2 separate regions of the Homo sapiens genome follow, and region 2 is linked to region 1. The links come from fine-mapping of genetic effects on gene expression. A gene starts in region 1. The other region holds a variant in brackets. All regions are shown on one strand. Distances are between the middles of the regions.

What was found. PIP is the estimated chance that this variant, and not a neighbour inherited with it, causes the effect. A credible set is the group of variants that fine-mapping cannot tell apart.
Region 2: its variant is the best candidate, but not a certain one, in a credible set for the expression of SNRPG in whole blood (INTERVAL, PIP 0.59).

The regions. Positions count from the first base shown.
Region 1 is chr2:70,291,619-70,295,618 of GRCh38, forward strand. It overlaps SNRPG (small nuclear ribonucleoprotein polypeptide G), which reads right to left and starts at 2,122. Exons shown (of 4, transcript NM_003096.4): 1 at 2,000-2,122. The coding sequence starts at 2,031. It overlaps LOC124906023 (a long non-coding RNA gene), which reads left to right and starts at 2,284. Exons shown (of 2, transcript XR_007086880.1): 1 at 2,284-2,314; 2 at 3,440-4,000. RefSeq lists enhancers at 880-1,787, 1,804-2,283.
Region 2 is chr2:70,250,280-70,254,804 of GRCh38, forward strand. MIR1285-2 (microRNA 1285-2) reads right to left here and starts at 2,726; the gene lies at 2,639-2,726. It also overlaps the pseudogene RPL39P15. The variant A/T (reference allele first, on the strand shown) is at 2,539.

The DNA of each region.
Region 1 (4,000 bases):
TGGTGTAAAAGAAGATGCTATCTGTGAGAAAGCAGAGGAAGAAAAAATTTTTAAGTCATTTTGGCGGCAGATCTGACCGGATTTCACAATTCATGAAACCTACGAGGAAGAGAAAGGTATTAAAACTAGCTTCCTTCTCTGAAATTTTCAAAAACTATGTTATGAATCAGAAAGAAAATCTTAGATTACAAGTAGAGAATGGTCTTTTTGTTAAAAAAAAAAAAATCACCATTTCACCAGTCCCTGATGAATCCAGAGGATACTTACATCACCAAAAATAACTTTCAGATAAAAAGAGTAATTTTCACAATAATTTCTGAGTAACTTCTATTTTTTTTTTTTTTTTTGAGACGGAGTCTCGCTCTGTTGCCCAGGCTGGAGTGCAGTGGCGCGATCTCGGCTCACTGCAAGCTCCGCCTCCCGGGTTCACGCCATTCTCCTGCCTCAGCCTCCCGAGTAGCTGGGACTACAAGCGCCCGCCACCAAGCCCACGTAATTTTTTGTATTTTTATAGACACGGGGTTTCACCGTTTTAGCCATGATGATCTCCATCTCCTGACCTCGTGATCCGCCCGCCTCGGCCTCCCAAAGTGCTGGGATTACAGGCGTGAGCCACCGCGTTGGGCTTATGTTTTAATAATTAATTCCTTAACAGACCTAACTAAAATATACATAGAAGTAGTTTTCATACAAAAGATGGCTTTGATACAAATGGACCTTTAAATGCAAAAATATTATTATTTTTTGAAACAGAGTTTCGGTCTTGTTACCCAGGCTGGAGGGCAATGGCGCGATCTTGACTCACTGCAACCTCCGCTTCCCGGGTTCAAGCGATTCTCCTGCCTCAACCTCCGGAATAGCTGAGACTACAGGCGCACACCACCTGCCTGGCTAATTTTTTGTATTTTTAGTAGAGACGGGGGTTTCACCATGTTGGCCAGGCTGGTCTCGAACTCCTGACCTCAGGTGATCCTCCCGCCTCAGCCTCCCAAAGTGCTGGGATTACAGGCGTGAGCCACTGTGCCCGGCCGCAAAATTATTAAATAGGAACTTTACCTTTTGTCTGACTTCCATGGGCCTGGTAATAAATGAACTAACTATACACAAAGCCAACCACATGCTACGCCAGAAAAAACTGATCCCTGTAAAAATTTTGCATCCTTTGTGCAATCCAACTAATACATGTAGAATTCCAGCATCAGGAAGTATAAGCAAAACAGAAACGTAGTCAGGAAACACATAACCTGTTAAGTCCACTCAAAAAGTATTTGAGGAATTCAAAGCTTTACGTTGAGTCCTACCTAAAGTAAGGCTCTCCTACTTAAAGTTGTTTGACTTTACTGGGTGTGTAGAAAAAACTTCAAAAAATTAGCCTTCTCTGACTAGAAAAAATTAATGTTCTTAAAAAAAAAGAAAAATGAATGTTCTTATATAGTTTCAACATCAGAGCAAGATAACACATGACATTCAAGCTTAACGTAAAAGAAGGCAAGAAAAAGGAATGAGGTTTCTAAGTAAAAGCTCAAACACCTACAAACACATTTGCTAAGACTAAAGTGGCTTTCGGATTCTGATGCCTCACGTAGTTTTAAAAACACTTCCTTCCCTTCCAGCCCCTCCTTAGTTCCTTCAGAGAATTTCCCCCTCTAGCCGTCTATCTAGAACATGATACTATTCGAGATGTTCAACAAAAGGTAGCACTGGAGATCTTCAAGGAACGAGGGACAGCGCCGGGTGACCAGGGGCCAGACCGCGGGACCTGGAGACTAGTCGGCCGGAAGGAGGTGCCGTGGCTGCCGGCTGTAACCACACCGACGCGCGAGCTCTGCGCGGGCTTCACGTCTCATGCGCGGGAGCCTGGCCGGGATCCCGGCGACCTCGGACCGGAAGAAGAAATGAAGTGAAGCGGCTCAAGACATTCGGCTAACGGAGAGGGAACCAAGGGACTCGCAGGACGCAAATAACTGACCACTTCGGTTTGGCTCTCACACATACTTACTTTTTCAACTCGGGAGGGTGAGCTTTGCTCATGGTGTATACTCCGCGGGCTCACAGATGCCTTGGAACGCAACGCACGGCTTTCCTCACGCTCCCGCTGTAGGCCCGGCGTCTTGCGTCTGGCGTCATCGACCTCGTTAGCCAATGGATTGTTGGCAGTTTTTACATTTCACCTCGCGATATCTCAGCGCCTCGGTCATCGTTGAGCTTCCGGTTATGTCCTCAGCGATTGGCCAGGACGGAGGGGTGCGTCCTCTAGGCACCTTTCTGAATTCCGTTTTCCTTGTACAAAATTGAGATAACGGGTATTCCACCGGTGGGTATCCCTGCTCTTTTTCTTTTCTTTTTGAGACGGAGTCTAGCTCTGTCGCCCAGGCTGGAGTGCAGTGGCGCGATCTCGGCTCACTGCAAGCTCCGCCTCCCGGCCTCACGCCATTCTCCTGCCTCAGCCACCCGAATAGCTGGGACTACAGGCGCCCGCCACCATGCCCGGCTAATTTTGTGTATTTTTTAGTAGAGACGGGGTTTCGCCGTGTTAGCCAGGATGGTCTCGATCTCCTGACCTCGTTATCCGCCCGCCTCGGCCTCCCAAAGTGCTAGGATTACAGGCGTGAGCTACCGCGCCCAGCCGGTTATCCCTGCTCTTGTCTATGGAACAGCCAAAATAAATAAAAATAAATAAATAAATAAAAAAAGCCGGGCGCCGTAAATCCCAGAACTTTGGATCTCTTGAGCCCAGGAGTTCGAGACCAGCCTGTGCAACATAGCGAGACCCCTTCTCTATTTAAAAAATAAAATTGAGATATTGAGATAACGGTCCCGTCTCTAGCTCCTGGGCAAACCCGGCCAATCCCGCATGTCTGTGGATCGTATCGCTTATTTTCTTCATATATACCAATATACCAAATGATAATGATCCCTGGAGGAATGGGCCTCTCTCTATATATGTATATTTTTTTGAGACGGAGTCTTGCTCTGTCGCCCAGGCTGGAGTGCAGTGGCGCGATCTCGGCTCACTGCAAGCTCTGCCTCCCGGGTTCACGCCATTCTCCTGCCTCAGCCTCCCGAGTAGCTGGGACAACAGGTGCCCGCCACCACGCCGGGCTGATTTTTTGTATTTTTAGTAGACACCGTATTTCACTGTGTTAGCCAGGATGGTCTTGATCTCCTGACCTCGTGATCCGCTGGCCTCGGCCTCCCAAAGTGCTGGGATTACAGGCGTGAGCCCCCGCTCCCGGCTGGGCCTCTATATTTTTTTGGCAGGTAACCCTACAGCATACTGTCAGACCAAGTAGGGTTCCCGTAACATGTAAATTAGCAGCCTCTGAACCATTGTAGAGTAAGGTGACTGGGTCTGTCTCCAAGAATTTGAATCTATTTCTGACTGAGGGGTCTTGCAAAAAAAATTTTTTTTGAGATGAGTTCTTGCTCTGTCGCCTAGGCTGGGGAGCATGGTGTGATCATGGCTCACTGCAACCTCGAACTCCTGGCCTCAAGCAATCCTTCCACCTCAGCCTCCTGAGTTGTTGAGACTACAGGCGCACGCCACTGCACCCAGCTAATTTTTTTTTGTAGAGACGAGGTCTTGCTTTGTTGCCCAGGCTGTTCTCAAATTCCTGGCCTCAAGAGATCTGCCTGCCTCCGGCTCCCAAAGTGCTGAGATTACAGGGGTTAGCCAGCATGCCTGGGAATTCTGAAATTTTTCAAACACTACCTCCAGAACTCACTGATGTGCTATTGCCCCTGTATATAAAATGTGAAGTGCAGCACACAAACATTTTCTAATATAAGGTGTTCTTTTTTCATGTCAAGATGTGTAAAAAGTGGTCTCGGACTTGTTCCCAGTTGTTACCCCAAAATTATAGAAGACTAAACCAAAATAGAATACCTTGTGTTTAAATAGGGGATAGTTCTCAAAAATTCAGTTAATTCCTGATATTCTGGAATGGCTCTATATAAATATCAATGATAGTAAAGACTTAAACTCATCACATATTTTGCA
Region 2 (4,525 bases), 41 kb before region 1:
AGCTGGGATTACAGACGTGCGCCACCACCTAAATTAGCCTAACTAATTTTTGTATTTTAGTAGAGACAGGGTTTTGCCATGTTGGCCAGGCTGGTCTTGAACTCCTGACCTCAGGTGATCTGCCTGCCTTAGCCTCCCAAAGTGCTGAGATAACAGACGTGAGCCGCTGCCCCCAGATGGAACATTCATTTTATGGACTATTTTGCAGTTATTGAAAAGCTATTAATCAGATCTGTAGTGTTGAACTGGAAAATATCTATGATGTAAGTTTATTTAAGTTGTAGAAATATTTTTTAAACATAGGAGAATTTACACATCGAAAAACGTGATGTCGGCTGAGCGGGGCGGCTCACGCCTGTAATCCCAGTCTTTGGGAGACCGAGGCAGGCAGATCACTAGAGCTCAGGAGTTCAAGACCAGCGTGGCCAACATGGAGAAACCCCGTCTCTACTTTAAAATACAAAAATTAGCCAGATGTGGCGGCACATGTCTGTAATCCCGGCTACTCGGGAGGCTGAGGTAGGAGGAGAATCACTTGAACCCGGGAGTCGGAGGTTGCAGTGAGCCCCTGGGCCACAGAGCAAGACTCCTCAAAAACAAAACAAAACACCAAAAAAACAAAAACGTGATGTCCTCTTTAAAGTAGTTTCTTCAGACTGTATACATTCTGGATTTTTCATTTTTGGAATTGTCTTTAGAGTCTCTGACACATTCTTCAGATTATTTTCAAAGATATCAAGTACTAGTCTTTTGATGGTGAATAAAACAAATGTTAATGGGGATGGTGTTTTAAAAACACCTTTTTGGGACATCCATATAAAGTGTTTTTCAGTTTAATGGTTTTTAGTTTATTCACAGAGGTGTGTGTGCAACAATCACCACAATCAATTTTATAACATTTTCTTCACCTCAAAAAGGAAACCCGTAGCAATTAGCAGACACTCCCTGTCCCTCATCCCATTCCATGTCCCAGCCACTAGTCTTTCTGCCCCTATAGATTTGCCTATTCTAGACATTTCATATAAATGGAAGCATGTAATATATGGTTTCTTGTAACTGACTTATTTCACTTAACATTATGCTTTTCAGGGTCATCTATGTTGTAACGTGTATCGGTACTTCATTCCTTTTTATTCCCAAATAAAACTCCATTATATGGATATTGCACAAGTACTTTTTTTAAAGTAGTTTTTAAGTTACAAAAGTACAACGTGCTTAGTGTTACAAATGAAATGAAATGGATACATAAGGAAAATATTAAAAATGTATCTTCTTCCTCCTTTTGAGGTAAGTAATATTAATAGATTCATCTGTAATATTCCACATTTTACTCTATACAGATGCACATGTATACACTTGGGATTTTTAGGGTTTTTTTTTTTGTTTTTTGTTTTTTTTTTACAGAGTGTCACCCAGAGTGACAGTGTCTTGGCTCACTGTGAACTCTGTCTCCTGGGCTCAAGCGTTTCTTGTGCCTCAGCCTCCAGAGTAGTTGGGATTACAGGTGTGAGCCACCACACCTGGCTAGTTTTTTTTTTTGAGACAGAGTTTCGCTCTTGTTGCCCAGGCTGGAGTGCAATGGCATGATCTCGGCTCACTGCCACCTCCACCTCCCGGGTTCAAGCGATTCTCCTGCCTCAGCCTCCCGAGTAGGTGGGATTACAGGCATGTGCCACCATGCCCGGCTAATTTTATATTTTTAGTAGAGATGGGGTTTCTCCGTGTTGGTCAGGCTGGTCTTGAATTCCTGACCTCAGATGATCTGCCTGCCTCGGCCTCCCAAAGTGCTGGGATTACAGGCGTGAGCCACCATGCCCGGCCTAATTTTTTTTTATTTTTAGTAGAGACAGGATTTCACCATGATGGCCAGGCTGGTCTCAAACTCCTGACTTCAAATGATCCACCCGCCTGATCTCAGCTCACTGCAACCTCTGCCTCCCAGGTTCAAGCGATTTTCCTGCCTCAGCCCGCCTAGTAGCTGAGATTACAGGCGTGGGCCAGCATGCCCCGCTAATTTTTGCATTTTTTAGTAGAGATGGGGTGTCACCATGTTGGACTGTCTGGTCTCAAACTCCTAACCTCAAGTGATCCGCCCACCTTGGCCTCCCAAAATGCTGGGATTACAGGTGTGAGCCACTGCGCCGGGCTTTTTTTTTTTTTTTTTTTTTTGAGACAGGGTCTCGCTCTGTTGCCCAGGCTGGAGTGCAGTGGCAATGATGTCAGCTCACTGCAGCCTCTGCCTCCAGGCTCAGGTGTTCCTGCTACCTTAGCCTCCTGAGTAGCTGGGACTACAGGCACGTGCCACCATGCCTGGCTAATTTTTTTTTTTTTTTGAGATAGAGTTTCACTCTTGTTGCCCAGGCTGGAGTGCAATGGCTCGATCTCAGCTCACTGCAACCTCCACCTCCCGGGTTCAAGCAATTCTCCTGCCTCAGCCTCCTGAGTTGCTGGGATTACAAGCGCCTGCCACCACACCCGGCCAATTTTTGTATTTTTAGTAGAGATGGGGTTTCACCATATTGGCCAGGCTGGTCTCGA[A/T]TTCCTGACCTCAGGTCATCCGCCTGCCTCGGCCTCCCAAAGTGCTGGGATTACAGGCATGAGCCACCATGCCCGGCCCACGCCCAGCTAATTTTTGTATTCTTTGTAGAGACGGAGGTCTCACTTTGTTGCCCAGATTGGTCTCAAATTGCTGGGCTCAAGTGATGCACCAGCCTCGGCCTCCCAAAATGCTGGAATTACAGGTGTGAGCCACTGCGCCCAGTCCTGGCCTAATAGTTTTTTAATAGTTGCAAAATCGTCCATAAAATGAAAGTTCCCCAATGTATTGAATGGTAAATTGAATAAATTACCATAACTGGCATTGATGGATATTCAGGTTACTACTTTTCAAAAACCTATTGTATTACAAATAATGTTGCAGTTGTATCCTGGTACATGTACCTTTTTTTTTTTTTTTTTTTTTTTTGGAGGTTGGGGGGCAGAGTCTCACTCTGTGCCCAGACTGGAATGCAGTACCACAATCACTGCTCACCTCAGCCTCTACCTCCCAGGCTCAGGTGATCCTCCTGCCTCAGCCTCCTGAGTAGCTGGGACTACAGGTGCACACCACCATGCCAGGCTAATTTTTTTGTATTTTTTCGTAGAAACGGGGTTTCGCCATTTTGCTCAGGCTGGTCTCGAACCCTGGGCTCAAATCGTCCGCCTGCCCTAGCCTCCCAAAGTGCTGGGATTACAGGTGTGAGCCACTGAGCCCAGCCTCTTTCTCCAAGTTTAACTTTATTTTGTATCCAACCTATTTTCTTCTCATCTATATTGTTCTTCATGTTCATGTACTAGTTATTTTTGTTTGTTTGTTTGGGTGAAGTATTGTAATTACAGAAATGAGACTTTTTTTTTTTAAATGAAAGGCCTCACATATTTATTACTGAACCCAGCCAACCAATGCGTTCATAACAGATTCGGAGAGGAAAACACGTCGAACTCTCCAGATAGGGGTGACATTTTCAGCTTGATATGGTAACGTGATCGTGACCTTCAGACAGCATAAATATGTGTGCCATCTCATGTACAATTCCTTATAGACCCAGCTTGGTTCTTCTCCAATGTCTCCTTTTGGAGTTGTACCTGATTTTATTTCCAGTTTTCATCCGAATCCACTGGGGAATGGGACGATTTTGCTTTTGTTTCTTGGGCAGGAATCACTTAATCCTGAAAGTCTTGTGAGAAGACATGGTGAGGGTGGAGTCAAGAACACACCACGATGGCAGAGAAAGGAAAAGAGGCATGAGATCATTTTATACCCATCATGCAACCACAAGCTTTTCTCAACTGATAATACTAGGACATTAGTTATAGACCCATTTTTTTTTTTTTTGAGACGGAGTCTCACTCTGTCGCCCAGGTTGGAGTGCAGTGGCGTAATCTTGGCTCACTGCAGCCTCTGCCTCCTGGGTTCAAGCAATTGTCCTGTCTCAGCGTTCCTGAGTAGCTGGGATTACAGGTGTGCGCTACCACGCCTGGCTGATTTTTATATTTTTAGTAGTAGAGACAGGGTTTCACCATGTTGACCAGCCTGGTCTCAAATTCCTGACCTCAGGTGATCTGCCTGCTTCAGCCTCCCAAAGTGCTGGGATTACAGGTGTGAGCCACTGCGCCAAGCTCCAACATTCTTTTTTTGTAATTTTTTTTTTTTTTGAGATCAGCCTGTCAGGTTGGAGTGCAGTGGTGCAATCTCAGCTCACTGCAACCTTGGCCTCCCAAGTTCAAGTGATTCTCCTGCCTCAACCTCCCAAGTAGGTGGGATTACAGGCATGCATCACCACGCCCAGCTAATTTTTGTATTCTTAGTAGAGGCAGAGTTTTGCCACGTTGGCCAGGCTGGTCTTGAACTCCTGACCTCAGATATTCTGCCTGCCTTGGTCTCCCAGAGTGCTGGGATTACAGGCGTGAGCCACCGTGCCTGGCTTCCTTTTAATGCATGCATAATGTTCTATTGTATGGTATGTTGGGGAGAAAAAAAGAGTTT